Linked DNA regions of Homo sapiens. The protein of the gene in region 4 interacts with the protein of the main gene of each other region in a pairwise test. Each region holds a gene or a part of one and is shown on either strand. Other genes may lie near its edges.

Region 1 (7,859 bases), on a different chromosome or scaffold from region 4:
TTTATTTTTTGGGGAATGATGTTGATGTAGTCGCATTGTATTAACTACAGAAACAGCATCTCCACCTATTCATCAGAAATTCGATTTAAACCTTAGCGATATGCTCATTCTTAGGGCAGAACGATGATAATGGAAGGTACACAGGAGTGCAAATGGAGGGAACATCTTTAGAGAAACAGTTCTATGGACCTAATTGCATTAACTGTGATAATATGTTAAACATAAAGTGGCTGTTGATTAGAGCTCAGACTGAAAAAAAATGAGGAGGGATGTAAAGAAGATAAAATTGGCACCATTGGGATCGAAATAATTCTTTTTATTTTTGTTCAAGCTTCAGAATTTAGCTCGCAAACAAACCATTTTCCTTGGCTTTCACGATTGAGCATATAAAAATACCATTTAGAATCTTTTTTTTTTAGCTCCAAAATGGGCAGAATGATGGAACGTTGGACTTATCCTTTGAATTGAAAGTGTTTTGTAATGAGGAAGCTTTCTGTATTATAATAAAGATCAGGTTTGAGCAGTTACCTGTAATTCAGTGAGACTGTAATCTAATGTGAGCATTTCTCTCATAACTTTACTCTGAGGTCTAGACGTTGTTTTTGCAGATCTGCAGGCTTGGTCTAGAGGTGGGATGTTTATATTAAAGCCCTAGCTTTTGAAAGCCCAAAATGAAAAGTGCCTGGGAGAAATGTGTTGGTGGATTTTTTTTTTCCACAGCCGTGGTTACCTGTGTAGTAGTAATGTGTTTTTGTATCTTTACCTCATTTGATCCTCCCGATATCTTGGTGAGAAGAGAGCAGATGGAGGTATTGATAGACAGAAGCCTTTGTGGAACGAATAGCCCATGAGTTTAGGAGTTGAGTCCCAGATTCAAATCCCAGTTCTACTACTTGAAAGCTGAGTGATTTCAGTCAAGTCATTAAAAACCTTTCAGATGGCCAGGCGTGGTGGCTCACGCCAGTAGTCCCAGCACTTTGGGAGGCCGAGGTGGGTGGATCACTTGAGGTCAGGAGTTTGAGATCAGCCTGGCCAACATGGCAAAACCCCATCTCTACTACAAATACAAAAATTAGCTGGTAGCACGTGCCTGTAATCCCAGCTACTTGGGAGGCTGAGGCAGGAGAATTGCTAGAACTGGGGAGGTGGGCAGTGAGCCACGATTGCGCCATTGCACTCCAGCATAGGCAACAAGAGCGAAACTCTGTCTCAAAACAAACAAACAAAAAACAAACAAAAAACCTTTCATATTTAGTGGTAATGGCTGCAAAACATTGTGAACATAGTTAATACCACTGAATTGTACACTTAACTTTGGTTAAAAAGGTAAAAATACACACACAAAAAAACCTCAAAAACCAAAAAAACTGGCCAGGCATAGTGGCTCACGCCCATAATCCCAGACTTTGGGAGGCTGAGCTGGGAGTATTGCTTGAGCCTAGGAGTTCGAGACCAGTGAGGGCAACATAGGGAGACCCGTCTCCACAAAAAAAAAAAAAAATTTGCTGGGTGTGGTAGCGTATACCTGTAATCCCAGATACTCAGGAGGGAGGTGGGAGGATTGCTTGAGCCAGGGAGGTCAAGGCTGCAGTGAGCCATGATCGTGCTTCCCTGCACTGCAGTCTGGGTTACAGAATGAGACCCTGTCACACAATCAAACTTTCATACTTCACAAGGCTGTCAAGGGGAACAAACCAGTTCATGTCCTGAAAACACTGTACATATATGAAATATCTGTTCACTATTTATTTATTTAATGAATGTCTGCTAAGTGCCAGGGGAAATAAAAATGAACAGAAAGCAGTTGTCAAGGAGCTTTCAGTGTCATGGGAAAGATAGACAAATACGGTGAGAAAAGTGAGGCAAAATGAATGCTATGGTTAAATGTGGGTTTTGAAGTCTGTCTACCACTTACTATTAGCTGTGTGACGTTGGGCACAATGGGCTCATCTGTAAAGTGCGAATAATAGAATTAACATCATAGGATTGTTTTGAGGATTAAATAAGATAATCAATGGAAAGCATTTCACACAATATGTTTTATAGTACACATTAAAAAAATTAGTTGTTGCCTTTATTGTTAGAAAGATAGGCAGAGGCTAGAATGGTGAATAGCCTTGTGTGCCCTACCAATGAGTTCTTAGTATTGTGGTATTTATTAATGAGGTATGATTTTGTTTTATGATCTCATGCATATTTGCATGTTTACAGTCTAGGAACTTTAAACAGTTCTTTAAATGCCAAAGTCCTAAACAGATGTTAGCTGTTAGCTTCCTCATTAATAAAATAAGAAGAAAAATTATGCTCTGAGAGGTTAAATGACTTGTTTAAGGTTACACAGTCAGTGGAAAAGTCTGGGTTACAGCCCCCAAATTCTAATTTGTCATCCCCATTTATATCCTTTTTTTAAATTGTAAAATATGTCATATGTATAAAAGTATATTTAACATAAACCCACAACTTAAAGAATAACAAATTGAAGGCTTTTCTACTTGCTACCCAGCTTAACAAAAAGGAGATTTCTAGTACCTTTAAAGCCTCTTGTGAGGTCCTACTTGATTGAATCTCCCATCTTCTCTCTCCCTCAGAGATAAACAGTTTCCTAAATTTTATGTGAATCATTTCTTTGCTTTTCTTTATACTTTTACCAAATATGTGCATATCCCTAAACAGTATATTTTTTACCTTTGCAACTTTTTATAAATAGAATTATAGGATAAATATTCTTCTGACTTGCTTTATTCTTATTCTTATTTTTTAACTTTTAAAAAAGCTTTATTTCTTCCACCATTAAATAATGTGTGCTCATGATAAAAACTAGAAATTACAAAAAGTAAAAAGAAGCATAAGTATTGTTTTTAGTCCTATTACCCAGTAACACTTTTTTTTTTTTTTGGTAGAGACAGGGTCTCGCTATGTTGTCCTGGTCAAGTGATCCTCCTTCCTCGGCCTCCCAAAGTGCTTACAAATGCAGGCATGTGGCACCATGCCTGGCTGGCAAATGCTTTTTGTAGAAAATATTTTGTGCCACATATGGCCTCTGTTGTTCTTTCTCCTCCCTTCCACTCCCCTTCCTTTTTGTCTCCCCATCTCCCTCCCCGTTCTTCTCCTTCCTGAAGCCCCTCCTCTTGCTTCTCCCCATTCCTTCTTCTCCCTCCCCTTCTCTTTCTCCTCCTTTTATGTGGTTTTAAGAATGTAAAACTCACAGGCCATACAAAAATAGGCCATGGGCGGGCCATAGCTGGCCGACCCCTGGTACGTTAACAGAAATCAACTCAAAGTTGTAAAATATTGAAGAGGAAAGAGACTAAACCAAGTTCATATTTCTTTCTCTATTTTGTTAAATTTACTTCCTTGGACAGTTATGCATATCTTTAGTATTGAAAACAATGGTATAGAATTTTTTTGTCAAATTATGTTTATCTAAAAGTTTAACATTTTATTAAATGAGCCATTATTTTCTGTATGAAGACACTCTGAGAAAACCTCAGTTTATAAAGTTCCAATACACCTCCTCCTCCTGCCAGTTAGGCAGGTGTCTGGGTCCTTTCAGAATATGCCTATTTTATGATGATATAGGTTGTGCTTTTTCTTAGATATAGACATTTTGAAGGAACCCTGAGATGATATATTTTTCACAGTAAACTTCAATCCTTGGCTACTTGAGATTATGATCTTGATTTGCCTTCTGATCATGTCGCTCAAGCTTGACGATTTCTGCTAACTTGTATTTCTTTTCTAGCCTCTGTTTTATAATTTTTCTAAGTATTTTAGTTTTCTAATGTGTCTTCCTCTATCTTTTATTTTGAGTTGATAGCAAATGTCTCTATCAGTAGATAACAGCTATGCTATTTATACTTATGCAAATATAATGGCGCCATTTTATATATAGTTCTTAGGTTGGTCATGTGGCATTATTTTCATTTTAAGGATGAAGAAATTAAGACTCTAAGAGGGTAGCTGGGTGCAGTGGCTCACACCTGTAATCCCAGGATTTTGGGAGGCCAAGGTGGGAAGATCGCTTGAGCCCAGGAGTTCAAGACCAATCTGATCAACATAGTGAGATCCAGTCTCTACAAAAAACAAAAATATTATCTGGATGTGGTGGCGTGCACCTCTGTTCATAGCTATTTTGGAGGCTGAGGTGGGAGGATCACTTGAGCCCAGGAATTTGAGGCTACAGTGAGCTATGATCATACCTCTGCTCTCTAGCTTGGGCAAGACTATATCTCAATAAATAAATGAATAAAAAGATTCAAGAGGGTAATTTGTCTTAGGCCATAAGACAAGTAGGGAATTAGCAGGGAAAGACAAAAGGTACCTAACATTTGAGTGTCTATGGCAGGCAGTATGCTGGGTGCTTTCTTTTCCTTATAGATAGAATTTAATCCTCATATTTGTGTCGTATAAGGAATTGTGATCATTTTACAGAAGAAGAAACTGAAGCAACTGAGGCATATAGTGATTAACTAGTTTGCATTTGTTTACATAGCTAGTAAGAGAAGAAAAGCTCGTATTTAAAAACCTGATCTGCCTTGCTCCAGAGCCATTGTTCTTTTTGTTGTACTGCATATAAATCTTCCTGGTTTTAAGCTGTTAAATCAGTAGTCTTCTTTTTTTTTTTGAGACAGAGTCTCGCTTTGTCTCCCGGCCTGGAGTACAGTGGCACGATCTCTGCTCACTGCAAACTCTTCCTCCCAGGTTCAAGTGATTCTTCTACCTTAGCCTCTTGAGTAGCTAGGACCACAGGCCCGTGCCACCATGCCCGGCTAATTGTTTGTATTTTTGGTAGAGATGGGATTTCACCATGTTGGCCAGGCTGGTCTTGAACCCCTGACCTCAGATGATCTGCCTGCCTCGGCCTCCCAAAGTGCTGGGATTACAGGCGTGAGCCTGCACCCAGCCTAATCAGTAGTCTTCAACCTATTTAGACAGGTAGTATCTGGCTACTCTTTAGAATCACCCGAGGAGCTGTTTAAAAAAAAAAGATATGTGTCAGTTCTACTCTCGACCAGTGTTAACAAAACTTCTGTAGGTGAGCATAAGGCAGATGTGTGTATATTTATATGGAAAATATAAATTAAAAATAAATTATATTGAGGTATGTATAACATGTAGAAAAAAATGCACAAAATGTATAACCAGCATTCGGATCAAGAAAGGGAACATTATCTCCTCCTCCAAGGAAACCAACAACTTCTAATAATGTAGATTATTTTTGCCTGTTTATGACGTTTCATAGGTGTGACTGGCTTTTCATATATAATATATTTGTGAGACTCATTTATTCTTGTATGTAGGTGTAGTGTGTTCTTGCTTATTGCTATGTAGCAACAGTTTCTCAAACATTTTGGTGTCTTCACATTCATATTTATTGACAACTCCAAAGAACTTTTGCTTGCAGTGGCACAGTCATGGCTCACTGCAGCCTTGACCTACTAGGCTGAAGTGATCCTCCATCCTCAGCCTCCTAAGTAGCTGGGACTACAGGCATGTGCCACCATGCCTGGTTATTTTAAAATTTTTTTTGTAGAGACAGGATCTTGCTCAGTTGCCCAGGCTGGTCTTGAACTCCTAGGCTCAAGCAATTCTCCTGCCTCAGCCTCCCAAAGTACTGGGATTACAGGCATGAGCCACTGCCTTCAGCTGTGTTAGCATATTCTAATGAAAATAAGTATATTATTCTAAATGTAAAAAATTAGAATAATATTTTACATTTAAAACAATCTCTTTAGTATCTTATTGGATCTGCCTCAGTATTCAGTCTGTTGCAGTTTGTTGTTTTGCATGGAATATAAAGAAAATCCAGTCCCACAAAGGAGGAATTTTCTTTTTCTTTTTAGACGGAGTTTCACTCTTGTCGCCCAGGCTGGAGTGCAATGGCAGGATCTCGGCTCACTGCAACCTCCGCCTCCTGGGTTCAAGTGATTCTCCTGCCTCAGCCTCCCAAATAGCTGGGACTACAGGCGTGCGCCACCACGCCCAGCTAATTTTTGTATTTTTAGTAGAGACAGGGTTTCAGCATCTTGCCCAGGCTGGTCTTGAACTCCTGACCTCATGATCCACCCACCTTGGCCTCCCAAAGTGTTGGGATTACAGGCGTGAGCCACCGTGCCCAGCCGAAAGGAGGAATGTTTTTATATAATTGTGGATATTCCTCTTTGATACTACACCAGTCATGTCCAGCCCTTTGAATGTGAGGACTTTTTTGCTTATCTGTAGTGGATATCATGAAAATTATACACACTTTTTTTTTCTTTTTTTTTTTTTTTCAGCTTATCAGCTATCGTTAGTGTTGGTGTATTTTATGTGAAGCCCAAGTCAATTTTTCTTCCAGTGTAGCCCAGGGAAACCAAAAGGTTGGACGCCCATGTTACACCAAAACTTGACAATTGGTAGTTTGTTAAGGTTCATTGCCTTGTACAGTCTGAACCATATCACTGAGCTTTTCATGCTCTGTTACATTAAAATCCATTGGTCTGTTTTTTTCTTTATTATTTTTTAATTTGCTTATTTCTCCAAGAAAAACCATTGGTCTGTTCGTACTTTGTTAGATCTTTTACCCGTGCATAATTTTTGTAGCATTATGCGTTGGTCATTTGGAAAATATTGGTTCACTGAATATCTTAGTCTGCTCTGGCTGCCATACCAAAATGCCATAGACTGGGTGGTTTAAACAACAAAAATTTATTTTTTCGCAGTGTTGCAGGCTAGAAAGAAGTCCAAGATCAGTGTTCCAGCATGGTTAGTTTTTGGTTAGGGCTCTCTTACTGGCATCTAGATGGCCATCTTCTCGATGTTTCCTCACATGGTGGATTGGAGAGGGAGAAGAGAGAGAAAGAATAAGTGCGAGTGGACAGGCAAGCTCTCTGGTGTCTCTTTTTGAAGGCACTCATTCCATCATGGCAGCCCCACCCTCATGACCTAATCTAAACCTAATTATAAATCATCTAAACCTAATTATCTCCCAAAGGATGTGTTTCCAGATACTATCACATTGAGGAATAGGGCTTCAATTTATGAATTTTGAGGGGAGGCAGTTCAGTCTATATTATTGAGTTATTGTGGAGCATCTTTTTTGAGACCGGGTTTCACACTGGAGTGCAGTGGTGCATTCACGACTCACTTTGGCCTCAACTTCCTGGGCTCACGTGGTCATGTAATCCTGCCACCTCAGCCTCCCGTGTAGCTGAGACTTCAGGTGCAGGCCACCGTGTCTTGCTAATTTTTGTAGTTTTTCATAGAGACGGGATTTCACTGTGTTGCCCAGGCTGGTCTCCAACTCCTGGGCTCAAGTGATACCCCTGACCCAGCCTCCCAAAGTGCTGGAATTACAGATGTGGGCCACCGCACCTGGCCATGTGCAGATCTTCTGAACTGTATAATGTTTAAGAACCCACATTTGTTAATATCACCACTCATCTCATCAGACAAATCTTTTCTAATTTTCATTTGAAAGCTCAAATTTTATCATAGGCAACCAATACTGACAGTTGTTTTCGTTGAAGTGACAGTCTCACATTGTTCATTTTCAAAAAATTGTCTGCCAAACATCCAAGTCTGAATAATCATAGTTTTTCTGCCAGTCGTTTTTTCAAGTAAAAATGGTGTTTATTAAAGCAGCCAGTACAGTTTGCAACTCAATTGCACAAGTGCTTTAGTGCTTTTCTTTGAGACAATTCTTGTACCTTAATATGCAGCAGAAATGCTTTATGTGAGGCTCGGTGCGGTGGCTCACGTCTGTAATCCCAGCACTTTGGGAGGCCGAGGTGGGTGGATCACCTGAGGTCAGGAGTTTGAGACTAGCCTGGCTAACATGGTGAAACCCCATCTCTACTAAAAATACAAAAATTTGCTGG
Region 2 (7,859 bases), on a different chromosome or scaffold from region 4:
GTGTGGGCACAACTTCTGCAAAGCTTGCATCACCCGCTGGTGGGAGGACCTAGAGAGGGACTTCCCTTGTCCTGTCTGTCGAAAGACATCCCGCTACCGCAGTCTCCGACCTAATCGGCAACTAGGCAGTATGGTGGAAATTGCCAAGCAGCTCCAGGCCGTCAAGCGGAAGATCCGGGATGAGAGCCTCTGCCCCCAACACCATGAGGCCCTCAGCCTTTTCTGTTATGAGGACCAGGAGGCTGTATGCTTGATATGTGCAATTTCCCACACCCACCGGGCCCACACCGTTGTGCCACTGGACGATGCTACACAGGAGTACAAGGTGGGGAAGCAGACACACGATGTCAGTGTGGGTAAAAAGGGAGAAGCGGCAGAGGATGAGATACTCCCTAGGTAGAGATCGTAAGCTCCTACTACTCACTTTGTATTCTCAGAGCTGCATATGCAGGGGCACACAGTATGTGTGATCAGTTGTCCTCTAGCCTGAAAAAGAGCAATGGTGAGAAGTGCCCTAAAATTTCTCTCTGACTTTTGCAATACATGTGAGTCTTATGGGTGAATATTGGTATGTGTGGTCATATTTTTCATAAATGAATGAAACCACATGGAAAAGATTAAACTTAGGAAGAACTGAAAAGTAGTCTGGTTTCTTCATTCTGCCTGCCTGCTCAGAATGCTCCTTGTTTTCACACTGGTTATTGGGCATAGGTAATATCGCTTGAGACTGATACCTACCGGACTAAGCTGAACCATTCAATTGTTTGCAGCTTCTCTAGGTAATGGGTAACATGGCATATCATTTAACTTACTGCTGAGACAAAGGAAAATGTTTGAATAAAGGGAACAGAGATATGAATGTGTTAGCATTTTATCATATACTTTGCTTAGTTATGTTACTCTTGAAAACAAGATTTCAGGTAACTTACAGTATAATAACCATGTTTTTATTGTAGGTGGACAGAGGTGGATGGGAGGACAGGTTTAAAGAGAGATATTAGGGTACAGAAGGTTGCTTGGATGGTAATAGGCAGTTGCCTCAGTAAGAAAATGGAAAGAGTTGAGAAAGGACACAGAGTTGATGACAGCTATCTCAGATTCAGTAAAAGGACAGTTGGGTGAGCAGAGAAGGTGATGTGGACAGGCTAGTGGCAGGAGGAGGGACTGTAGAAAGTTGACATCCCAAATGACAGGCAAGGAAGGAAGTCAGATCAAGAGGCAGTAAGATGGCTAGGAAGCAAATAAATGGTTTAAAACAAATGGTTTAATCTCTGAATGGTAGGTATACCAGTCAACCCCAAATGTCACCTCTCCCACTTCCTCCCTACCCCTCAGGAAAAACTGCAGAAGTGTCTGGAGCCCCTGGAACAGAAGCTGCAGGAGATCACTCGCTGCAAGTCCTCTGAGGAGAAGAAGCCTGGTGAGCTCAAGGTAAAGGCAGGCAATCCCATGTAGGCTGCTCTGAAGGGTATTTGCCTATGAGGGAATTAACTGTACACTATTTAATCCACCAGTTCCGGTTCATTAGAAAAATGCAGTTCTCGCCGGACATGGTGGCTCACACCTGTAATCCCAGCAATTCTGGAGGCCAAGGTGGGCAGATTGCTTGAGCTCAGGAGTTTGAGACCACCCTGGGCAACATGGTGAAACCCTGTCTTTACTAAAAACAAAAAATTAGCCGGGCATGGTGGCACATGCCTGTAGTCCCAGCGACTTGGGCGGCTGAGGCAGGAGAATTGCTTGAACCTGGGAGGCGGAGGTTGCAGTGAGCCAAGATCACACCATTGTACTCCAGCCTGGGCAACAGAGCAAGGCTCTGTCTCAAACAAACAAAAAAAACAAACAAAAAAAAAAAGAACAATGTAGTTCTCTCAAAAATGATGGCATTTTATTAGGCTTGATTGTCATTAAACATTGTACTTAAATTACTTGTCATGAATTAAGTATTAAGAGGGATTTAAGAGATGAAGAACAGACAGAATATCTTACATCTGGTGAGCTGAGAGAGTTCGTGCCTCTTGGTCTCCTTTTTTTGTTAAAGCAGCAAAGGAGGCTTTCTGCTGAGAAGGCAGGGATGGGAGTTTCTTAGAGGACTTGAAGAGAGGAGAATATGGAAGATTCACTGGGGAGAAAGGGAAAAGGAGCTGACCAAGAGTCTCAGAAGAACTATCTAATGACATTAGGACCACATTCTTAAAACTCAAGTAAGCTTACATATGCTAGAATGTTCTCCCCCTCCCCATCCTCCACCATAGGATCTTATTCATCTCTCAGGCGGGATGAAAGCCACTTCCTATGCAGCCTTTCCTGACCCTTCAGAAATTAACATTCTTAATTTTCATACAATTTTGCACCTCTTTTATAGCATTGCCTTATTTGTAGCATGGTATTTTGGTGTCTGTCTGTCTTCCATTGAACAGTGAACAATTATCATTTGTAGCAAAAATAACTAGAATTGAGTCCTATGCATTAATTCATTAGGTATCCGTAACATTCCAGATTTATAGGGTTGTTAGGGTCTTAGAGTTCAGGCCAAATTGGGATAAGTGAGACATAGAAAAGCTACGAGAAAGAGACAGAAGGAAATCCTGAGGCCATCTTTAGTAAGATGTAGGGGTAAACCTAGATATTCTTTAAGGTAGGTATTATTACCTTCAGCTTACACAGAAGGAAATGGACCTTGGGTAAGTGACTAGTCCAAGATCATAAAGCCAGTAAGTGGCAAAACCAGGAATACTAGTTCTTCGTGAATCAGTAAATATTTGTTAAGCTCCTGGTTTAGGCCAAACCCGGTATTTGACACTGGGGAACAATGATGAGCAAAAACACAGTTCCTGCCCTCCTTGAGCTTAAAGTTAAGTGGAGAAAATAAGTAATGGCACAAAATGCACAGCTGCAAGTTCATAAGAAGACAACATAGAAATTTGGCCTCATTAAAGGTTTCCCGAAGAAGTAATGAGTTTTTAAGAGTTGACATGTAGAGATCACCAGAAGCTAAATCCAAGTTTTGATTCATAGAAACATGAATTTTTAAATGAATGATAACATTTCATCAGAAAGCAAGTATTATTACCTTAGTGCCTTATACATTTTAGCAAAGTAAGCATTTGAAATTTTAAAATTTGAACCAATTTTGGTTAGAAATGTGAACTTTTAAAGTTTTTTGTTCTTTTAGAGGCCTTCCAAGAAACCTAAAAATATGAAAATGGTGCTTATTGCTAGTCATTAACTTTCTTCTTCATGTTGATCACCTTCTTGAAGGTAAAGGATGGAGAGAGAAATATACCTTTTTAAAACCTTCTAAATGCTTGAACAGAACTGTCCTGTTTTTTAAACTGTAAATTGTCATTTCAGTGGTCTCCAAAACTACCACCAACATTCCTCTTGTGACCATTTGAATTCTCCCTCCTTCTCCCTCATCAGACTCAATGCCCCTTTAAAAAATAATTTGTAATTATGCTGAACTGAAAATTACAGGTAATATAACCTATGTGCATAATGTTAAATTTTAAAGAGTCTATCATGTCCAAATATAATATAATGAAACATAATTGATGATAAAATGTGGTATGTAATATTTGGGCATGACTACCCTGAACGACTTTACAGTGTAGCTGGTTATATGCTTGCCCCTATATGTGTCATTATCAGCAACGCCATAAATACAAATTCAGACTGAGATGGATGTGTGCCAATATGATTGAAATACCATAAGTAGCTTAGCTCTTGGTGATATGATTTTTCATAGTAATAACTTTTGGTAAAGTTCTAAGTATAACAATATAATCTTGGGTTTTATTCAGCTATTGCTGAAAAATTCACGTATAGTAAAACCATGTAAGAATTACTCTGTGTTTATACTATATAAAATGGCATTCAAGCCCAGGCCTATGTTTTTGTTTTTGTGGTTTTTTTTTTTTTTTTTTTTTTGAGACGGCGTCTCGCTCTGTCATCCAGGCTGGAGTGCAGTGGTGCCATCTCGGCTCACTGCAAGCTCTGCCTCCCGGGTTCATGCCATTCTCCTGCCTCAGCCTCCCAAGTACCTGGGACTACAGGCGCCCACCACCACACCCAGCTGATTTTTTTTTTCTATTTTTAGTAGAGACAGGGTTTCACCGTGTTATCCAGGATGGTCTCGATCTCCTGACCTTGTGATCTGCCCACCTCGGCCTCCCAAAGTGCTGGGATTACAGGCGTGAGCCACCGTGCCTGGCCGCCCAGGCCTGTGTTTTTGAATATCCAGCAGAACATTAGAAAATGTTGCAGGTCAGTTCACTATGCCGGATTGTCTCACACATTGGAGGAGTGCTTGCGTCATTGTCAGGAACTTCCCCAACCATGGAAAACAAGAAGATGTGCCTATTTCCAAAATATCCTCAGAGTGTGTTAACAGCTTCATCAAGAACCACTGCCCTAAAATATAGAGTGAAAAAAAGAGAAAAGATTACCGGTTTATAAGAGGAAGGGCCTTTTTGCTTCCTATTTATCACAGTCATGAATGTTAAACTTACACCCATACCTAAACAAACACACATGCATGCACACACATGTGCAAACACACACACACAAAGGCTGTGTTTTATTGAGGGCAAATGTGAGAATATATTTTGTTCAGATGTACACTGAGAAGGCAGTGGTGGAAAGTGAAGCAGCAAGTGGCCCTAAACTAGAAGAGCTAGTCAGCCTCTGCCAGGAACTAGCTTGAATCCACAAATGCCACGCTTGTCAGGCCCATCCTGGCTTTGCATCCCCACTCTCTCTCCACCCTCAAGCCTGCCTTTCATTCCCTATCCACTTCCTTCTAGAGTCCCAGTCTCTGCTTCTCACTTTGCTTCATCATCAGTCACATGATGCTTGGGGAATTCTTTAGGGAGATCACTATTTGTTGTAGTGGAGATGCAGAAGAGAGGATGTGCTGATAATTCTCAGAAAGTGTTATGGCTGGTGTTTGAGTCCTATATTATCAAATTTCAGGAATGTTAGAGGCTTAAGTCTGTGTGCTGGCTTAAAGAAAGCATGTTTCAAATTTCAAGAAACTAAATTACTAACAAACTTCTGTAACCTGTTCCTGGGGTAGGAATTGCCAGTTCTCTGAAGTGACTTGAAACAATTTAACAAGTTCAGCCCTGAAATCTACATATGTATATTTTATAATAACCCATATAACTCTTACTGATTCTTACACTTTCCCAGTTCTCTGGTTTTTATCTGGTGCATGTGTTGCAATATGCAAAGGATGACAATCTTATTTTTAACTTTTTATTATTTGTACTTTCCTTTTTGTTTCGTTGTTTTTTGTTTGCTTGTTTTGAGACAGAATCTCACTCACCCAGGCTGGAGGGCAGTAGTGATCACAGCACACTAACTCAAACTCCAGTGTTCAGGCCATCCATCCTCTTGATTCTTTTTGAGTAGCTAGGACTGCAGATGTGCATTGCCATGCCCGACTAATTTTTTTTTCTTTTTAGTTGAAACAAGGTCTCACTATGTTTCCTAGGTTGGTCTTGGCCTCAAGTGATCCTCTCACCTGGGCCTCCTAAGCACTAAGTTTACAGGCATGAGCCACCATGCTGAGCCTATACTTTCCTTTTCTCGACAGATTGAATTAACTAGAACTTTACAGTTGATAATAACACAGATATCTCTGATATCTGTAATAGTTAATGTCATCATATTATTGAGTTCTTTATCTTAAATTAAAACAAATATATATATCCGCAGTGGTCTTCACTACCAAGTCATCAGTAGGGGGGTGATAGTGATGGAGCCATTCTTTACAGAAGGAAATTCCAATGGAATAAAAAATGAGTGTTCTGTTAAACCATTTTCTCTCATTTTCTTTCTTTCTTTTCTTTCTGTCTTTGTCTTTCTGTCTTTCTTTCCTGTCTGTCTGTCTTTCATCTCGATCTGTTGCCCAAGCTGGAGTGCAATGGTGCAACAATTTCAGCTTACTCCAACCTCTGCCTTCTTTGCTCAAGCCATCATCCCACCTCAGCCTCTCCAGTAGCTGGGACTACAGGCATGCACCACCAGACTCAGCTAATTTTTTGTATTTTTTGTAGAGTTGGGGTTTCACCATGTTACCTAGGCTGGTCTCAAACTTCTCATCCCAAGCAATCCACCTCCCTCGGCCTCCCAAAGTCCTGGGATTACAGTCATGTGTCACCACACCCAGCCTTTGTTAAACCATTTTCAATGAAACTGGAAGTCTGTGTTAATTCATACATATGGTGGGTGAGAGAAAGGCTTCCTTATACCACACTGACCCTGCTGATACAACATCTTCCCTCTCTTCTCAGAGACTAGTGGAAAGTCGCCGACAGCAGATCTTGAGGGAGTTTGAAGAGCTTCATAGGCGGCTGGATGAAGAGCAGCAGGTGTTGCTTTCACGACTGGAAGAAGAGGAACAGGACATTCTGCAGCGACTCCGAGAAAATGCTGCTCACCTTGGGGACAAGCGCCGGGACCTGGCCCACTTGGCTGCCGAGGTGGAGGGCAAGTGCTTACAGTCAGGCTTCGAGATGCTTAAGGTTCGACCTTTGCCCCTGCATAGCCCCTCAGGCTGAGTGCAGCGTAGCTTTGCGTAGCCTGGGATTTGTCAGCCTGGGATACTCATTCTTCTGCTCTCCTTCTCTAAATCCAGTTCTTTCTGCCAGGTGTACTCAAAGGGTCTTTGCTACGGAAAAGTGATTTCTCCCATCCCCTTCTAACCATTTTTGTGTTCTTATCTCTGGTCAGCAATTATGTGCTTAATCTGTTCCAAAGAAAAGATTCATTCTTTTGAAAGGAGGGAAGTCTAGCCTGAGTTAGTGAAAAACTATGCATTAAAAATTTTGTAAATGCAGTTACCATTACTTTTAAGTCCTGAAATTTGATTTATGTACTGCTGAAAAAGGACAGAAACATAGTTTAAAGGATACAGGCATACCTCAGAGATATTGTGGGTTCAGTTCCATACCACTTCAATAAAGCGAGTATCTTGATAAAGCAAGTCACATTAATTGTTGGGTTTCCTAGTGGAATCATATTTTTGCTGGTGGAGGGTCTTGTGTTAGTATTGACTGATCGAGGTGGTGGTTGCTGAAGATTGGGGTGACTGTGGTAATTTCTTAAAATAAGACAACGACGAAGTTTACTTTCAACTCTTCCTTTTATGAAAGATATCTCTGAGCATGTGATGCTGTTTAATAGCATTTTACTCACCAGTAGAACTTCTTTGAAAATCTTTGAAAACCCACATTTGCAGTTACTTACAACATGGGAGTCTTGAACCCCTAAAAGTCATCCATAAGGGTTGGAATAGACTTCTTCTAAATGCCTGTTAATATTGATATTTTGGCTTCCTTTCACAAATCACAAATGTTCTTAATGGCATCTAGAATGGTGAATCCTTACCAGAAAGCCTTCAATTTACTTTGCCTAGATCTATCAGAAAAATCACTATTTATAGCAGCTTTATGAAATACATTTATTAAGACTTGAAAGTCCAAATTACTTCTTGATCCATGGGCTGCCGATTGGATGTTGTGTTAGCGGACGTGAAAACAACATGAATCTCATTTTACATCTCTATCAGAACTTTTGGGTGATCAAGTGCATTGTCAGTGAGCAGTAATATTTTGAAAGGAATCTTTTTTTCTGAGCAGTAGGTCTCAACTTAAAATTTTCAGTAAAGGGTTGGGCACGGTGGCTTACACCTGTAATCCTATCACTTTGGGAGGCCAAGGCAGGTGGATCACCTGAGGTCAGGAGTTTGAGACCAGCCTGGCCAACATGGTGAAGCCCAATCTCTACTAAAAATACAAAAAAATTAGCTGGGCATGGTGGTGGGCGCCTGTAATCCCAGCTACTCGGGAGGC
Region 3 (7,886 bases), on a different chromosome or scaffold from region 4:
CTGTAATCCCAGCACTTTGGGAGGCCAAGACGGGCAGATTACCTGAGGTCAGGAGTTCGAGACCAGCCTGACCGACATGGTGAAACCCTGTCTCTCTCTACTAAAAATACAAAATTAGCTGGGTGTGGTGGTGCATACCTGTAATCCCAACTACTTGGGAGGCTGAGGCAGGAGAATTGCTTGAACCCAGGAGGCAGAAGTTGCCATGAGCCAAGATTGGGTCATTGCACTCCAACCTGGGTGGCAAGAACAAAACTCTATCTCAAATAAATAAAAACATACATACATACAATCTCCTTTAGAAAACCTTCCATGATTCCTCCAATAGGTGTGAATATAAAATTATTAACATGAGAAGAGATCAGTTAGGTACTCTTAAATTTTCAATGCCTTCATTGCCACAATTCTAGTCCCAACCACCATCAACTCTAGGTGGTCTCCTCATTTCCATTCTTGTCCCCATCCAATCCAGTTTCTACACAGCAGTCAGGACGACTTTTTGAAATAAAAAGTTGGCCAGGCACGGTGGCTCACGCCTGTAATTCCAGCACTTTGGGAGGCTGAAGTGGGCAGATCAGAAGGTCTGGAGTTCGAGACCAGCCTGGCCAACACAGTGAAACCCCGTCTCTACCAAAAATACAAAAAACTAGCCAGGCATGGTGGCGCATGCCTGTAATCCCAGCTACTCGGGAGGCTGAGGCAGGAGAATCGTTTGAACCCGGGAGGCAGAGGTTGCAGTGAGCGGAGATTGCACCACAGCACTCCTGCCTGTGCGAGACTCCGTCTCAAAAAAAAAAAAAAGTTGTTTGTAGTAAGACTTACCTTGCTTTAAACTTTTTTTTTTTCTGACGGAGGTAAACCTTTAAACGACTTCCTATTACTGTTAAAATAACATCCAAGTCATTTGGGTAATATTACGGGAGAGTTCATTGTACTGTTCTCTCCCTACATTTGAGTGGTTTGAAAAGTTTTCTATAAAAGTTTAAAAAAGAAAAAGAAACAGAAAAAGCTGGTCCCAAATCCTTAACATTGCTTAAAAGGCCCTGCATCAGCCGGGCACGGTGGCTCACGTCTGTAATCCCAGCACTCTGGGAGGCCGAGGTGGGTGGATCACCAGAGGTCAGGATTTTGAGACCAGTCTGACCAACACAGTGAAACTCCATCTCTACTAAAAATACAAAAATTAGCCGGGCATGGTGGCGCGCATTATAGTCCCAGCTACTCGGGAGGCTGAGGCAGGAGAATCGCTTGAATCCGGAAGAGATTGCAGTGAGCCAAGATCGTGCCGCTGCACTCCAGCCTGGGTGACAGAGCGAGACTCTGTAACAAAAAAAAAAAAAAAAAAAAAAGCCCTGCATCATCTCTTTGGCCCTAACCTACTTTATCACAGCACCCTTTTGCTTTCCACACAACAACTGCTGAAGTTCCTGAAATGACCATCTTCCCTAGCCTCCGCGCCATCTATTTCCTTTGCCTGAGCCTTTCTTCTCTCCTTTGGGAGTCATCTTCCCCTAATTCCTATTTATCCCTAATATCTAAGCTCAAAGATTACTTTCCTAGGAAAACTTTCCCAGCTTGGATAAGTCCCCCTGTTACCTTCTCTCACAAACAACTTACATTCTTTATTTTAGCCTCTGTCTTTGCTTATTGGCATTTATTTGTGTGATTATTTATTTTATTTTACTTTTTGAGATGGAGTCCCGCTCTGTCACCCAGGCTGGAGTGCAGTGGCACCATCTTGGCTCACTGCAACCTCTACCTCTCGCCGGCTCAAGCTATTCTCCTGCCTCAGTTTTTCTGAGTAGCTGGGATTACAGACGCCCCCCATCACGCCCAGCTAATTTCTGTATTTTTAGTAGAGAGAGACGGGGTTTCACCATGTTAGCCAGGCTGGTCTAGAACTGCTGACCTCAGGTGATCTGCCCACCTCAGCCTTTCAAAGTGCTGGGATTACAGGCGTGAGCCATCGCTCCGGGCCCTGATTATTTGCTTAATATCTGTTTTGCCCAATGACACTGTAGAGTCTAAAGGCAGAGTCTGTAATTGTCACTATTGTATCCTTAGCATTCAGTACACAGTAGGTACTAAAATTTTTTTGAATGAAAAAAATTAAATCAAGTGTATGCTAATTATTATACATTATTAAATTAAAATGCAAGTAAAGTACCCTCCACAGTGCCCAGCTGAAAACAACTGCTCAGTAAGTGTGAGCTTCCATTAACACTGGACTGCAGTCAGCCTCATATCATTAGTGTGCTTAACCACTCCCTCCTGCACACATTTTTTACACATTTTTGGACTCCGCCAGTGCCTAGCACTAACATTAGTGTTATAAAAAGATACTCTGTATTCACTGAATTTAATTGCCTTTTAAATAAATCCGACTTTCAGCATATTTAGAAAGAAGACACAACATGAACTTTTAAAGTTTCCCCCCTAAAAACAAACTGCAACCGGCCAGACTTCATACTACCACATTATTTTCTGCATTCGCATCAAAACAAATCAGCAGTTTCCTATCTTTACTTATCTCAAATTACGTACATAGGAACTCAACGCTGGATGCCACACGAACATTCATCATTGCTGACAAGTAATAAACTCTTTTATTACTGGCAGCGAAAAGGAAAAAAAAAAGGCACAAAGAAGAAATTAAGGAAACGTGAAATCAGCGAACACCAGGCCTTCAAAACATCAGAGAAAGTGAGTGGTGGGAGTCGGGTGAAGTCACTAATAGGCATACTTTGTATCACTGGACTGCGATCGTGCAGCGTTCGCCTTTGAAAATAGAAACATTGTGTTGCGCATAACTGTAAGTTTCGGAACGCCCTGCGAGAGAACCAGGAGCTGTGCCTTCAGCTAGCTCGCAAGTCAAGCCGCAGGCGAGTCAGGGGCTCGGGGTCGCCGCTCACCTGGGCTGGGCGGGACCCTGGCTCGGGCTCCGCCGCCGGCGCCCCTTCCCGAGTCGCAAACACGCGGCCCTCCGGAGCGAGACTCCCCCCGACACCGACGATCCGCGGCGGCCAAGCCACAGGCCGCGACCCCTCGGCCCCAGCCGGCAGGCGACCGCCCCGCCCCGCCCTCACCCCGCCGGACGCGGCGCGGCCCCGGGACGCTCACCTCCGGGCACGGCCTCCCGGCCTCGGCCTCACTCAGCTCAGGCACCGCAGGCACCGTTTGGCCGCGGGCTCCGTTTGGCTGGAGCCCTTCAGAGCCGGAGCGCCGCCGCCCCAGACCGCCTCAGGTTCCGCGGCCGCGCCGCTGAGATCCCGCCAGCCTCTCTCGGTCTTCGCCAGGCGCCCAAGCGCGCGCCGACGCCGGCTCCGCGCAGACCCGAGGAGCGCGCGCGGACGCGGGGGCGCGCCGAGGGCGGGGCTTGCCGCGGCCGGGCGCTTCAAGTCCCGGCGGGAACGGCGCTAATGGCCGCCTCCCCTTCCCACCACTGGCCCGGCGGCTAGCTGCCTTCATGGGTAGGGGAGATGCAGGCAGCTCGGTGTGTGCTCACCAGAGAACCCAGAGTGTGCTTACCTGGGTACCTCCTCAGCCTCAGAAACCATGGAGAGACATCCCTGCATTCTGACAATGTTGAACTTGACCTGAGCCCTGTGGACAACGAAGTTGAAGAAACCCCCACCCACCTTTTTTTTTTTTTTTTTTTGAGACTAAATCTCGCTCTTGTCCCCCAGGTTGGAATACAATGGCGCGATCTTGGCTCACCGCAACCTCCGCCTCCCGGATTCGAGCGATTCTCCTGCCTCAGCCTCCGGAGTAGCTGGGATTACAGGCGCCTGCCAGCACGCCCGGCTAATTTTTGTATTTTTAGTAGAGACGGGGTTTCACCATGTTGGCCAGGCTGGTCTTGAACTCCTGACCTCAGGTGATCCGCCCGCCTTGGTCTCCCAATGTGCTGGGATTACAGGCGTGAGCCACCGCGCCCGGCCCCTTTGTGTTCCTAAAAGGACTTACTACACGCAACCGCCCTTCCGCATGTGACTTTGTCAGGACTCAAGGATGCCCCCGTCGTTAGCTGTGACAAGGTCAGGCCCAGACCCTCTAAATTCCAGTTCTTCGCCTCGCAAATAGTTAGCTGACCTGCCTGTACTCACGATGTGGACAAATCCCGGCTGCCTTGACTTGACAGGACTTGAGTGAAGCAGCTCTCCCTGGGCCTCTCTACACGGTGACCGAGCCTCAGCCGCAGCCAGCGAGCAGCCCTCCTCATCCACCGCCTGAAAATAGACGGACCCCAGGGAAACAGTCTCTGTATAGTCTCATCGCTGCCACCTCCAGTCTTCTCCCCACTTCCCCACACCCGGGTCTTTCTAGCCCTGTTCACTCATCTCTGTAAAAGGAAAGCCCTTTTCTGCCTGACCCAGGAGATCGCTGCAGATCTCATGGTTGGAGAGTTCTCCCGGTTGCTGTAGCCTCCCCCAATCCCCACTCTCAGTTGCAATAGTTTCTTTCCCTTTTCTTGGATCTCTTCCACTGAACTCTCTCCTTACGTATATCCAGATTTGTTTTTTATTTTATAGTCCAGCATTCTCCCAATTGCAACAGTCCTTCTTCCTATTGCAATAGTTCTCCACCCTTATTGCAATAGTCCTTTTCCCCCCTGTTGCAATAATCCTTTCCGAATAAAGTCTCGGTTTGCCTAAATCGGGATTTATTTGTAAGTCTTTAGTGCGGGGACTCAGATTGAGATTGATCCTCACCTACAGGCCCATGCCGTTCCCCCCACCACCACCTCCCTCATCTCCTGTTCAGTGATTTTGGGAGCCTGTGGTGAGTTCAAATCTCACTGCTCATGAGACCGTGTCTGTTGAAGCACAATAAGGAGTTAAATTGATCCCATTAGGCAAAGAGACTTTTCTTTGACCATTCTGTGAGAGCTCTTCCGATTTTTTGGTCCCAGCACCATTTAATGAAGAGAGGATTCTTCCCTTGTCAAAAATCAATTGACCATGGATGTATAAATTTATTTCTGTACTCTCAATTCTATTCCATTGATTATGTATCTTATCTTTATGCTAGTACCATACTATTTTGATTACTGTAGCTGTATAGTAGCTGTATACAGCTGTATAGTAGCTGTATAGAAATCAGGAAGTTTGAGTCCTCCAACTTTGCTCCTCTTTTTCAAGATTGTTTTGTCGCTTGCAGTTCTGTATGAATTTTAGCTCAGCTTTTCCATTGCTGTTAAAAAAAAAAAAAAAGGGAGGGGGGGGCCACTGGGATTTTGACAGGGATTGCTTTGAATTGGTAGATCAATTTGAGGAGTATTGATACCTTCAATTTTTTTTTTGAGATGGAGTTTTGCTCTTGTTGCCCAGGCTGGAGTGCAATGGCATGATCTCGGCTCACTATAACCTCCGCCTCCCAGGTTCTAGTGATTCTCCTGCCTCAGCCTCCCAAGTAGCTGGGATTATAGGCATGCACCACCATGCCCAGCTAATTTTTGTATTTTTAGTAGAGACAGGGTTTCACCATGTTGGTCAGGCTGGTCTTGAACTCCCGACCTTAGATGATCCACCCGCCTCGGCCTCCCAAAGTGCCGGTATTACAGGTGTGAGCCAACACACCCAGCCGGAGTATTGATATCTTAACAATACTGGTGCGATGACTCACTTTATATATAAAGTCTTCAAATCCTTAAGCATGAATATTTTTGCATTTATAGTCGTGCGCCACATAACAACCTTTCGGTCCATGACTTACAGCATATGTGATGGTGGTCACATAAGATTATAAGGCCATATTTTTACTGTATCTTTTCTATGTTTAGATACACAAATACCATCATGTTACAATTGTCTACAGTATTCAATACAGTAACATGCTGTCCAGGTTTGTAGCCCGGGAGCAAGGCTATGCCATATTGCCTAGATGTGTAGTACACTATACCATCCAGGTTTGTGTAAGTATACTCTGTGATGTTCACACAACGACGAATTCACTTACACGACACATTTCTCAGAAGGTGCCCCCATGGTTAAGCACTACATGACCATACTTAGACCTTCTTTCATTTCTTTCAGCAGTGTTTTATAGTTTTCCACGTACAAGTCTCGTACCTCTTTGGTTAAATATATTTCAAAGTATTTTATTCTTTTTGATGCTATTGTAAAAGGAGTTGATTTATTTCCTTTTTAGATTTTTTATTGCCAGTATTTGGAAATACCACTGATTTTGTGTGTTGATCTTGTATCTAACAACTTTGCTGAATTCACTTATTAGCTCTAATCATTTGCTAGAGATGGGGTCTCCGTACATTGCCCAGGTTGATATCGAACTCCTGGGATCAAGTAATCCTTCCACCACAGTGTCCTGAGTAGCTAGGACCACAGACGTGTGCCACCATGCCCGACCAATTAAAAAAAAATTTTTTTTGTAGAGATGGAGTTTCACTGTGTTGCCCAGGCTGGTCTCGAACCCCTGGCCTCAAACTATCCTCCTGCTTGGGCCTCCCAAAGCACTGGGATTACAGGTATGAGATACCACACTTGGCCATAGTTTTATTTATTTCTTTCTAATGTGGATGCCTTTTATTTCTTTTTATTGTCTAACTGCTCTAGCTAGAACTTCCAGTACAATGTTGAATAGAAATGAAGAGGCTGGGTGTGGTGGCTTACACCTGTAATCTCAGCACTTTCGGAGGCTGAGGCAGGAGAATTGCTTGAGCCCAGGAATTTGAGACCAACCTGGGGCAACATAGCGAGACTCTATTACTAGACTTAAGAAAAACAGAAAAGAAATGATGAGGCCGGGCACGGTGGCTCATGCCTTTAATCCCAGCCCTTTGGGAGGCTTAGGCAGGTGAATCACTTGAGGCCAGGAGTTCGAGACGAGCCTGGGCAACATGGTGAAACCCCGTCTGTACTAAAAATACAAAAATTAGCCAGGCGTGGTGGCAGGCACCTGTAATCCCAGCTACTCGGGAGGCTGAGGCAGGAGAATTGCTTGAACCCAGGAGGCAGAAGTTGCAGTGAGCCGAGATCACGCCACTGCACTCCAGCCTGGGTGACAGAGCAAGACTCTGTCTCAAAAAATGATGAGAGTGGGCTTCTTTGTCTTGTTCCTAATTTTAGACAAAAAGCTTTCAGTCTCTCTCACCATTGAGTATGATGTTAGGTGTATGTTTTTCTTTTTCTTTGAGACAGAGTCTCTCTCCATCCCCACAGCCCATAGTAATCTCTATTCTACTTTCTTTCTCTCTTTTTTTTTTTGAGGTAGGATTTTCACCAGGTTGCCCAGGCTAGTCTCAAACTCCTGGACTCAAAACAATCCTCCCACCTTGGCCTCCCAAAGTGCTATGATTACAGGTCTGAGCCACCACGCACAGCCTATTCTACTTTCTGTCTCTATGAATTTGCCCATTCTAGATACCTCATATACGTGGACTCCTACAATATTTGTTCTTTTTTGTCCGGCTTATTTCACTTAGCATAATTATTTTCAAGTTCATTCATGTTATAGCATGTGTCAGTATATCATTCCCGTTTATGGTTGAATAAGATTCCATTGTATGTATATATTACATTTTGCTTATCCATTCATATGTTGACGGCCATTTGGGTTGCTTCCACCTTTCTGCTATCTTGAATAATGCTGGTATGGACTTTGGTATACAAGTATTTGATTGACTCCTTACTTTCAATTTTTTAAAATTTTTGTTTTATTGTGGCAAGAATATTTATTTATTAATTTAATTTATTTATTTTTGAGACAGCCTCCCTCTGTCACCCAGGCTGGAGTGCATTGGTGCAATCTTGACTCACTGCAACCTCCCCCTCCCAGGTTCAAGGGATTCTCTCACCTCAGCTTTTCTGACTGGCTGGGATTAAAGGTGCCCCCCAACCATGCCCAGCTAATTTTTGTATTTTTAGTAG
Region 4 (7,859 bases):
ATGCAAACCTGCTTTTCTACGGTGGGGGCTGTGGAGTCTCCAACAGCTCTGCACAGAGGAAAGAGTCACAACCAGGCACGAAGAGTGAGGCTGAGGAGCCAGACACTGCTGGGGCCTGATGCGAGGCTAACACCGCCCAGGACCCCAGTCCCTGCCCTTTCCCCCAGAAGAACCAGACATCTGGTTTGCATGAGAAACCTCCCCAGAGTCGACATGTTCCCAAACAAGCCCAGCTGAAGAGGAGGAAAAGGATGCAGGTGAGGAGAGGCAGAATTTGTTGATTTGGGGTGACCGGTGCATAAAAGTCTTGCTCTCCATCTTGTCCTGCTACCTTCTACTGGCCGAACCCTTCACTGCTTGTGGCTCAACTCTCGCTAGCTCCTCCAGGGAGCCCACCGCCTGGTGTGGGCCACCACCGGCTCCTGCAGGCCAGCTGCCCCCACCCCCAGCCTGGGCCCCGGGGGCCAGAAGGCACGCCCACCTGAAACACCTTGTTCTGCAGCTTGATCTTCCGGTACTTCTCCTCCTCGGGGTGCAGGTGGATGTTGTCCAGGTACCTGGGGTAGGTGGAGAAGGTGAGTGGGGCACAGCCCAGGCTGCCCACCCGGCCCCTCTGTGCCTCCTGCTCCAGGTAACAGCAGCTCAGCCACACTTGGCCTCTAGTCAGAGGGAAGAAGCGGCCCAGTGACGCGAGGGCAGCAGACCATCTCCGGGTGGAAGGCACACCTCGGACACCCCATGGAGCCCACCCCTGGTGCCAGCAGGAGCCCCACGGAACCCCTCACCGTCCCACCAGCCCTGGAAGGGCACAATTAACCACAGCGGTGGGGAAGCCACAGTGCCGGAAGAGTGGAGAGCCAGAGCTGAAGGGCCGCAGTGCCAGCAGGGGGCTCCTGCGGGGTGCTCCCTCGGCGTTGGCGGGCAGCGTGGACCTCCAGGCCTGCCCCCGATCCTGAGACCCGGGGAGTGGGGTGGGACCCTGCCTCCTCCACATGTTCCCCAAGGAAGCCAGGGTGGGAAACCCCTGATTCCTTCAACACCTTCATTTTGCACACGGGTAAACTGAGGCCCAAGGAGGCCCAGCCCTTTGCCTGAGGCCTCTGGGTGGAGCTGCCTCACTCTCGGCCTATGCTCCTTCCCAACCCACCTCAGCAGGTAATGAGGGGGCCAGAGGGGGTGACAGCCCCAGTGGGAGGGGTGCTGGGATGAGCTGGAGGGGCCAGGCAGGGCAAAGGGGCCACACGCTCACTTGGCAATGGTGTCCACACCCAGCTTCACCCGGTCCTGGTCTTTGTTGAACGTGTAGATCTTCATGATGGAGGCGGCCACTGGGTCGGTGGAGAAGTGCTGGGAGGAGGGAAGCAGGGAAAGCCACTCACTGAGAGCCCGGGCCGCACGGCCCTCCGCTGCCCAGGTAACAGGGGCAGGAAAAGGAAGGCAGAACAGCGGCTTGGAGCGGCCCCAGCTGTGCGCTCATCACAGAAAGGAAAAGAGAGACCCTCCAAGACCGCAGCCCTGCCCACGCCCCAGGGCAGAGGCGACGCAGCCAAGACCCAGCAGAACTCAAGTCTCCCCTTCCGCCTTCTCAAGGCTAGATCCATGGGACTTGGAAGCCAGTGTGACGCGACAGAACTGTGCCTCACACTCTGGCTTTAGAACTCGACCTCAGTGCTGAGATCCATCAAGGCCACCGCCACTTACAGAACCTCCCGCCACCATGGACGCCCCATCCCTCCTGCTCTCGCAGCCCCATGATGGACGTTCTGGAACCACTCCCGGGCCTCATGTTTACAAAGAGACCGAGAGGCCCATCGTCCAGGGTCACAGGGATGGCAGGTGGCAGAGAGGACACAAATGAGTCTGCAACCCTCAATGTCTGAAACTCAATAGCTGGAAGACGGATACCCCCAGCCCCTGCCCCTCCCCGAGGTCCCACCTATCCACCTATGTTACCGGGGGAGGGGAGAAGTCATAGCTGGAACTCTGGGGGTTTCCCAGAACCAGCCCTGCTGACTGCGAACAGCGTCCCAGCATGGAGAGGCTGAGAACAGTACGTACCCTAAGACCTGGAAAAGATTGGGGCACAAATCCACGCTCGGCACAGCCATCACACACGGCCACACCCAGAGAGCCACCCATGGCCTGGGAAGCAGGGCTGCCACCCGCACCTCCCTGGGCTGCCCAGACGAGGGCGGGTGAACAGAAGGGCAGCCCAGGGCCATGTGTCAGGATTCGGGCCACCTGCCCAGGCAGCCCAGAGCTCCACCCACCACCCCCCACCCTCAACTGCACAGCAGGGTCCCTCAGCAGCCCCCTGCGTCACACGGACCAATGACCTACACACTGAGCCGGGGCTCATGCCAACTGAAAATTGGGACCCGGCCCAGTCTGCCGGTTTAGTTGCTGAGATGATGTGGGGAGCGGGACAGAGCACGTGGATGCAGAGAGGCAGAGCTGCCAGATGGGCATGTCCCCAAGACAACAGCTTCCTTGGGATCAGAGCGCCCGGGACAGCACACCAGCCAAGGGAAGCGTGTCAGCTCCAAAAGCGGGCCTCGGGCGTTTTGGGCGACTGGCTGCCAGGCTTAGGTCAGGAGCTGGGTACATGCACAGACAAGGGACGAAGGAACAGCAGCCAGGAAGGGGTCCAAATCCATACAGGAATGTACTTTGTGAGAAAGGTGGGATTTCACAGCTGTAAGCAAAAGACAGGTGCTCTCGACAGGTGGGGCTGAGAAGAAAGCTGAGCCAAGATCTAAAAAAAAAATTACATCAGCTCCATCCCACCATGTTACATAATAACATGCTCCAGCTGGATCAAAGCTTCAACCATGGAAACAAGCAAGCAGTCAAGGAGAAGCCAGAAGAAAAGCTCTGGAGGCCGGGCACGGTGGCTCATGCCTGGAATCCCAGCACTTTGGGAGGCCGAGGCGGTCGGATCACGAGATTAGGAGAGCGAGACCATCCCGGCCAACATGGTGAAACCTCATCTCTAAAATACAAAAGTTAGCCCGGGTGTGGTGGCGTGCACCTGTAGTCCCAGCTACTTGGGAGGCTGAGGCAGGTGAATTGCTTGAACCCGGGAAGCAGAGGTTGCAGTGAGCTGAGATTGCACCACTGCACTCCAGCCTGGTGACAGCAAGACTCTGTCTCAAAAAAAAAAAAAAAAAAAGCACTGGAGAGGCCACAAAAGAATTCTCTCAGCATGGAAATGGGGAAGGCATTTCTAAGAATGACCCCAAACCCAAAAGCCATGAACTAAAACTGACACATTTAATTATACAGAGATCAAAAAATCCTACACAGCAAAGTGACCATAAGCAGAGCCAACATAGAAGCAACTAGAGGGAAACATGTGCAACTCATATCATAGGCAAAAGCCTAAATTGCCTAATATGTAAAGAGTGCTGCCGGGCACGGTGGCTCCCGCCTGTAATCCCAGCACTTTGGGAGGCCGAGGCGGGCGGATCACGAGGTCAGGAGATCGAGACCATCCTGGCTAACATGGTGAAACCCCGTCTCTACTAAAAATACAAAGAATCAGCTGGGCGTGGTGGCGGTTCGCCTGTGGTCCCAGCTACTCGGGAGGCTGAGGCAGGAGAATGGTGTGAACCTCGTAGGCGGAGCTTGCAGTGAGCAGAGATGGCGCCACTGCACTCCAGCCTGGGCGACAGAGCGAGACTCTGTCTCAAAAAAAAAAAAAAAAAAAAAAAAAAAAGAGTGCCTACAAATCACTAATAAAAAGACAAACTATCTACTAAATAATGTAGAAAGGACGCATTCTCATATGAAACATGGCCAATCCAAAATAAGGAAAGTGCAAATTAACTCTATCCTGAGATGTTATTTTCACCTACCAACAGGCGTAAAGATCAAAGTTTGGTGATTTACAGTATGGTGAGAGGATGGGGACACGGGTGCTTTTGCACACACTGCTGGAGTGGGTGTGAGTCTGGAGAGTCTATGGAACTATTACTATTTTGTTTTGTTTTGTTTTTAAGATGAAGTTTCGCTCTTGTCACCCAGTGTCCACGCTGGAGCTCAATGGCGTGATCTGGGCTCACTGCAACCTCCACCTCCCAGGTTCAAGCGATTCTCCTGCCTCAGTCTCCTGAGTAGCTGGGATTACAGGCGCCTGTCACCACGCCTGGCTAATTTTTGTATATTTAGTAGATAGGGGGTTTCACTATGTTGACCAGGCTGGTCTTGGAACTTCTGACCTCAGGTGATCCACCTGCCTCAGCCTCCCAAAGCACTGGAATTACAGGCAAGAGCCACCGCGCCCAGCCACTTACTATTTTCTGAGAAAGGGTCTCACTTGTCACCCAGGCTGGTGTGCAGTGGCATGATTACAGCTCACTGCAGCCTCTACCTCCCAGGCTGAAGCAATCCTCCCACCTCAGCCTTCTGAGTAGCAGGGACTGCAGGTGCACGCCACCATGCCCAGCTATTTTTTTTTGTTTTTGGCAGAGACAGGGTTTTGCCATGTTGCCCAGGCTAAAGCCGAAGTTTCTGAGAACCTATTGATGGTGTTAAGTGAGGACTTGCTGTATTGGAAAAAAATGCTGTGGACGTTTTTATTTTTTGAGATGGAGTTTTGCTCTTGTTGCCCAGGTTGGAGTGCAATGGCGCTATCTCGGCTCACCACAACCTCTGCCTCCTGGATTCAAGCAATTCTCTTGCCTCAGCCTCCCGAGTAGCTGGGATTACAGGCATGTGCCACCATGCCTGGCTAATTTTGTAGGAAGTTCTTTCTGTATTGAAGCAAATAATACTTAACCTTTTATGAAAAACAACCAGGCCACGCGTGGTGGCTCACGTCTGTAATCCTAGCACTTTGGGAGGCTGAGGCGGGTTGATCACTTGAGGCAAAAGTTCGAGACCAGCCTGGCCAACATGGTGAAACCCCATCTCTACTAAAAATACAAAAATTAGCCAGGCATGGTGGCAGGTGCCTGTAATCCCAGCTACTTGAGAGGCTGAGGCACGAGAATCGTTTGAATCCAGGAGGCGGAGGTTGTAGTGAGCCGAGAATGCGCCACTGCACTCCAGCCTGGGTGTCAGAGTGAGACTCCATCTCAAAAAAAAAAAAAAAGACACCTAGTTGGGAGAGAGGAGATACAGATGCATACACAATGGTGTGCCTGGATTTGGGGTATCAGAGGAGGGGCTTCACTACTAGCAGTGGCCTCTGGGGACTCTGGGAGGGATCTGTACCACCTGGGCTTCCGATGGAGGGTGGCTCAGGCACAGGAAGCTACAGGTTGGGGCAGGAGCACACAGGGTGCCACTCACCAAGAGAATGGCCTCCTTGATGCAGGCGTCCCGCTGGTCCTTCCTCAGGGTGGCCCCAGTGAGCGGACAGGTGAAGTACACGCCAGGCACAGCCAGGTGGGCAGAGCCTTCCTCTCTGGGCTCAGATACCTGGGGCGGTGAAAGCGTCCAAGTCTGGACCGTGGACAGAGGCCACCCCGACCCTCGCCGAGCACCACAGTCCTGAGTGTGGCCCGTAGAACCAGACATCTCCAGCCCCCATGCTGTCCCTTCCACCTGGTGGCCGTGGGAGACACCCTGGCCAAGTGACCGGATCCCCGAGTCTTTTCCCTGGTATGTCAAATGTCCCTGTGGGGCCTGCTCAGAACTAAACGAGGTAAGGAACGGAAAGTACGGAGCAGCTTCTGACACGCAGGAAACACCCAGCAGATGGCAGCTGGGTTCCTGCTGGTCCTGTCCCCAAGCTGTTGAGGAAGGAGCTCTGTGTGGGTGTCTGCGGGCACAGTGCGCTGGACAAGGCATGACTTCTGGGCCTCCATTTCTAGGCCATCTCTAAGGTCCCTGCGTGCTAAAATTCACTGAATCCTCGAGGGTCAAGCTGCTTAGAACTCCTTTCAGCGGAGCTCTGAAGGCCCACCTCCTAGAGGAAGGCCTCCCTGATTCCACCCGTCTCCACAGAGCCTCTTGACCTCCAAGGCAGGCAGGACTGGGCAGTGCTAGGGGACAGGCTCTGAAACCACAGACTGGCTCTGGTCCTGCCTTTGCTGGTCCTGGGGTGTAGGAGAGAGGACAGCTGGTTTCACCTCTCTCAACCCCGGTTCTCTTTTTGAATAGTGGAAACTGTAACTGCATCTGCCCTTAAGGGGTTAAGGGGAGGGAGCGATGGGCTCGTGTACCTGAGGCCCACTTCTCCAGGCCTGAGCCGGCATCCTCAGCTGCCGAGCCCCGAAGGTCCCAGACAACACCGTGTTCCACCACAACCTGTGTCCACCTTGCAAGGCAAGGTTTTCCAACAGCCCTTGAGCCCCAAGGGCAGAGGCCACATCTCCCCCGTGACACAGTCAAGCTGTCCCCACCCCTTGGCATGGGACAGTGCCACCAGTGGCTGTTCTTACCACGTTGGTCCCTGGGGCCTCGGGGCTCCCGCTGACGGTGGCTTCGGCTTGAAGTTCCTTTCTCACTGGAAGGCAGCCCAAGAAAGAGAGGCAGAGACGGGATAGTGAGCACGCCGCTGTCCTGGCCCAAGCCCCCTCATTCCCGGGGTGGGCCTGGGGGCCACGCACACCGCCCCAGCCTGCTTCTGCTGGAGGTCAGGCTGGAGGTCCCCTGCAGGACTTGCTGTGCAGCCACCCCTCAGCCTGAGCAAGCACCCCACTGCCTGGGCAGCCCGTTTCTGCTCCAAGTCTCTGCTCCCACCCCCTCCCCAGGAAGCTGCCCTTCCCCCAGCACCTGCCCTTGATGAGCCGCTCCCAAGGGTGACCCTCACACCCCCACGGTTGCTCATGTGACTTCTGCATCCAGGGCCAGGCACCAGGGCCGAGAACCTCAAACAGCCCCAACCTGGGCCCGAGGAGGGCCATATCTCACCCTGGTTTCGGATGGTGTCCTGCGATGTGGGGCCCCAGGCCCGGGACTGCTTCTGCTCCAGCCGGGCTAGGGCGGCAGCGGCTGCCATCTGTGCCTCATTGGTGGGTCCCTGGCGGGGCGGCCTGGGGGCTGGCTGGTTGGGCTTCTCTTTGTGGGCCTTTTCCCTGGGAACAGACCGAGGGAGAGTGAGTGTATCCTCCCGAGGTGGCCGGCAAAGCTGACGTGCAGTCACACAGAGGAGCTTCTGCCCCTCCCCAGCACCATCAGCCAGACGTGTCCCTGCCTATGTGGGCCAGGACACCTGGTTCCCAGGGGCCACCTGCAGCCACCAGATGGTTCTACTGCAGGCGGAAGAGCCCCTGGAGGAAGGAGATGCTGGTTCCACTCAGCTCTGCACCATCGGGCAAGTCCTGCCCCCACTGGCCCTCAGCGTCCTCATCTGTAAAATGGGGTGACAGCACCCCTCCTGAGGTGAAGGCACCTTGACATCCTCAGTGCTTTTTTTCTTTTTGAGACAGGGTCTTGCTCTCTCACCAAGGCTGGAGTATAGTGGCACGATCATGGCTTACTGCAATCCTGAGCTCCCAGGCTCAAGGAATCCTCCCGCCTCAGCCTCCCAAGTCGCTGGGACTTAGAGGCAAGCATCATCATGCCTGGCTAATTTTTCTATCGAGACAGGGTCTCGCTATGTAGCTCAGGCTGGTCTCGAACTTTTGCCTCAAATGATCCTCCCACCGTGGCCTCCCAAACTGCTGGGATTATAGGCATGAGCCACAGCACCCAGCCCGCATCCTCAGGAATTGAGGAGACTCAAGGGGTGTCACATCCTCCCTCCCTCCCTGCCATAAGACTCTCCACCCTCAGGTCACAGCTTCGTTTGCTGAGCACCTACTGTGTGCCAGGACCCTGCTGGGAGCTGGTCGGCTCGCTTGGTTTACTCCTCCTAACAAGCTGCCAGGGAGGCCTCACCATCCCATTCCTAAACCCAAGAGGGACAG

What was found.
Region 1: the proteins of UBXN6 (region 4) and FAM168A interact in binary tests that used the Homo sapiens proteins (3 or more experiments, as listed by UniProt).
Region 2: the proteins of UBXN6 (region 4) and TRIM39 interact in binary tests that used the Homo sapiens proteins (3 or more experiments, as listed by UniProt).
Region 3: the proteins of UBXN6 (region 4) and UBXN2A interact in binary tests that used the Homo sapiens proteins (3 or more experiments, as listed by UniProt).

Annotation. Positions count from the first base shown.
Region 1 is NC_000011.10:73,587,909-73,595,767, reverse strand, and holds part of FAM168A (protein FAM168A), read left to right. Parts: intron 1-7,859.
Region 2 is NC_000006.12:30,329,446-30,337,304, forward strand, and holds part of TRIM39 (E3 ubiquitin-protein ligase TRIM39), read left to right. Parts: coding exon 1-325; intron 326-1,335; coding exon 1,336-1,431; intron 1,432-6,299; coding exon 6,300-6,530; intron 6,531-7,859. Other genes in the region: TRIM39-RPP21 protein, read left to right, coding at 1-325, 1,336-1,431, 6,300-6,530.
Region 3 is NC_000002.12:23,935,883-23,943,768, reverse strand, and holds the start of UBXN2A (UBX domain-containing protein 2A), read right to left. Parts: upstream 3,307-7,886; 5' UTR 3,121-3,306; intron 3,085-3,120; exon of another isoform or gene 2,913-3,084; intron 1-2,912. UniProt on the Homo sapiens protein: Acts to repress the ubiquitination and subsequent endoplasmic reticulum-associated degradation of CHRNA3 by the STUB1-VCP-UBXN2A complex in cortical neurons.
Region 4 is NC_000019.10:4,447,069-4,454,927, forward strand, and holds part of UBXN6 (UBX domain-containing protein 6), read right to left. Parts: intron 7,026-7,859; coding exon 6,862-7,025; intron 6,455-6,861; coding exon 6,390-6,454; intron 5,425-6,389; coding exon 5,296-5,424; intron 3,763-5,295; exon of another isoform or gene 1,348-3,762; coding exon 1,250-1,347; exon of another isoform or gene 558-1,249; coding exon 482-557; exon of another isoform or gene 120-481; coding exon of another isoform or gene 37-119; exon of another isoform or gene 1-36. UniProt on the Homo sapiens protein: May negatively regulate the ATPase activity of VCP, an ATP-driven segregase that associates with different cofactors to control a wide variety of cellular processes.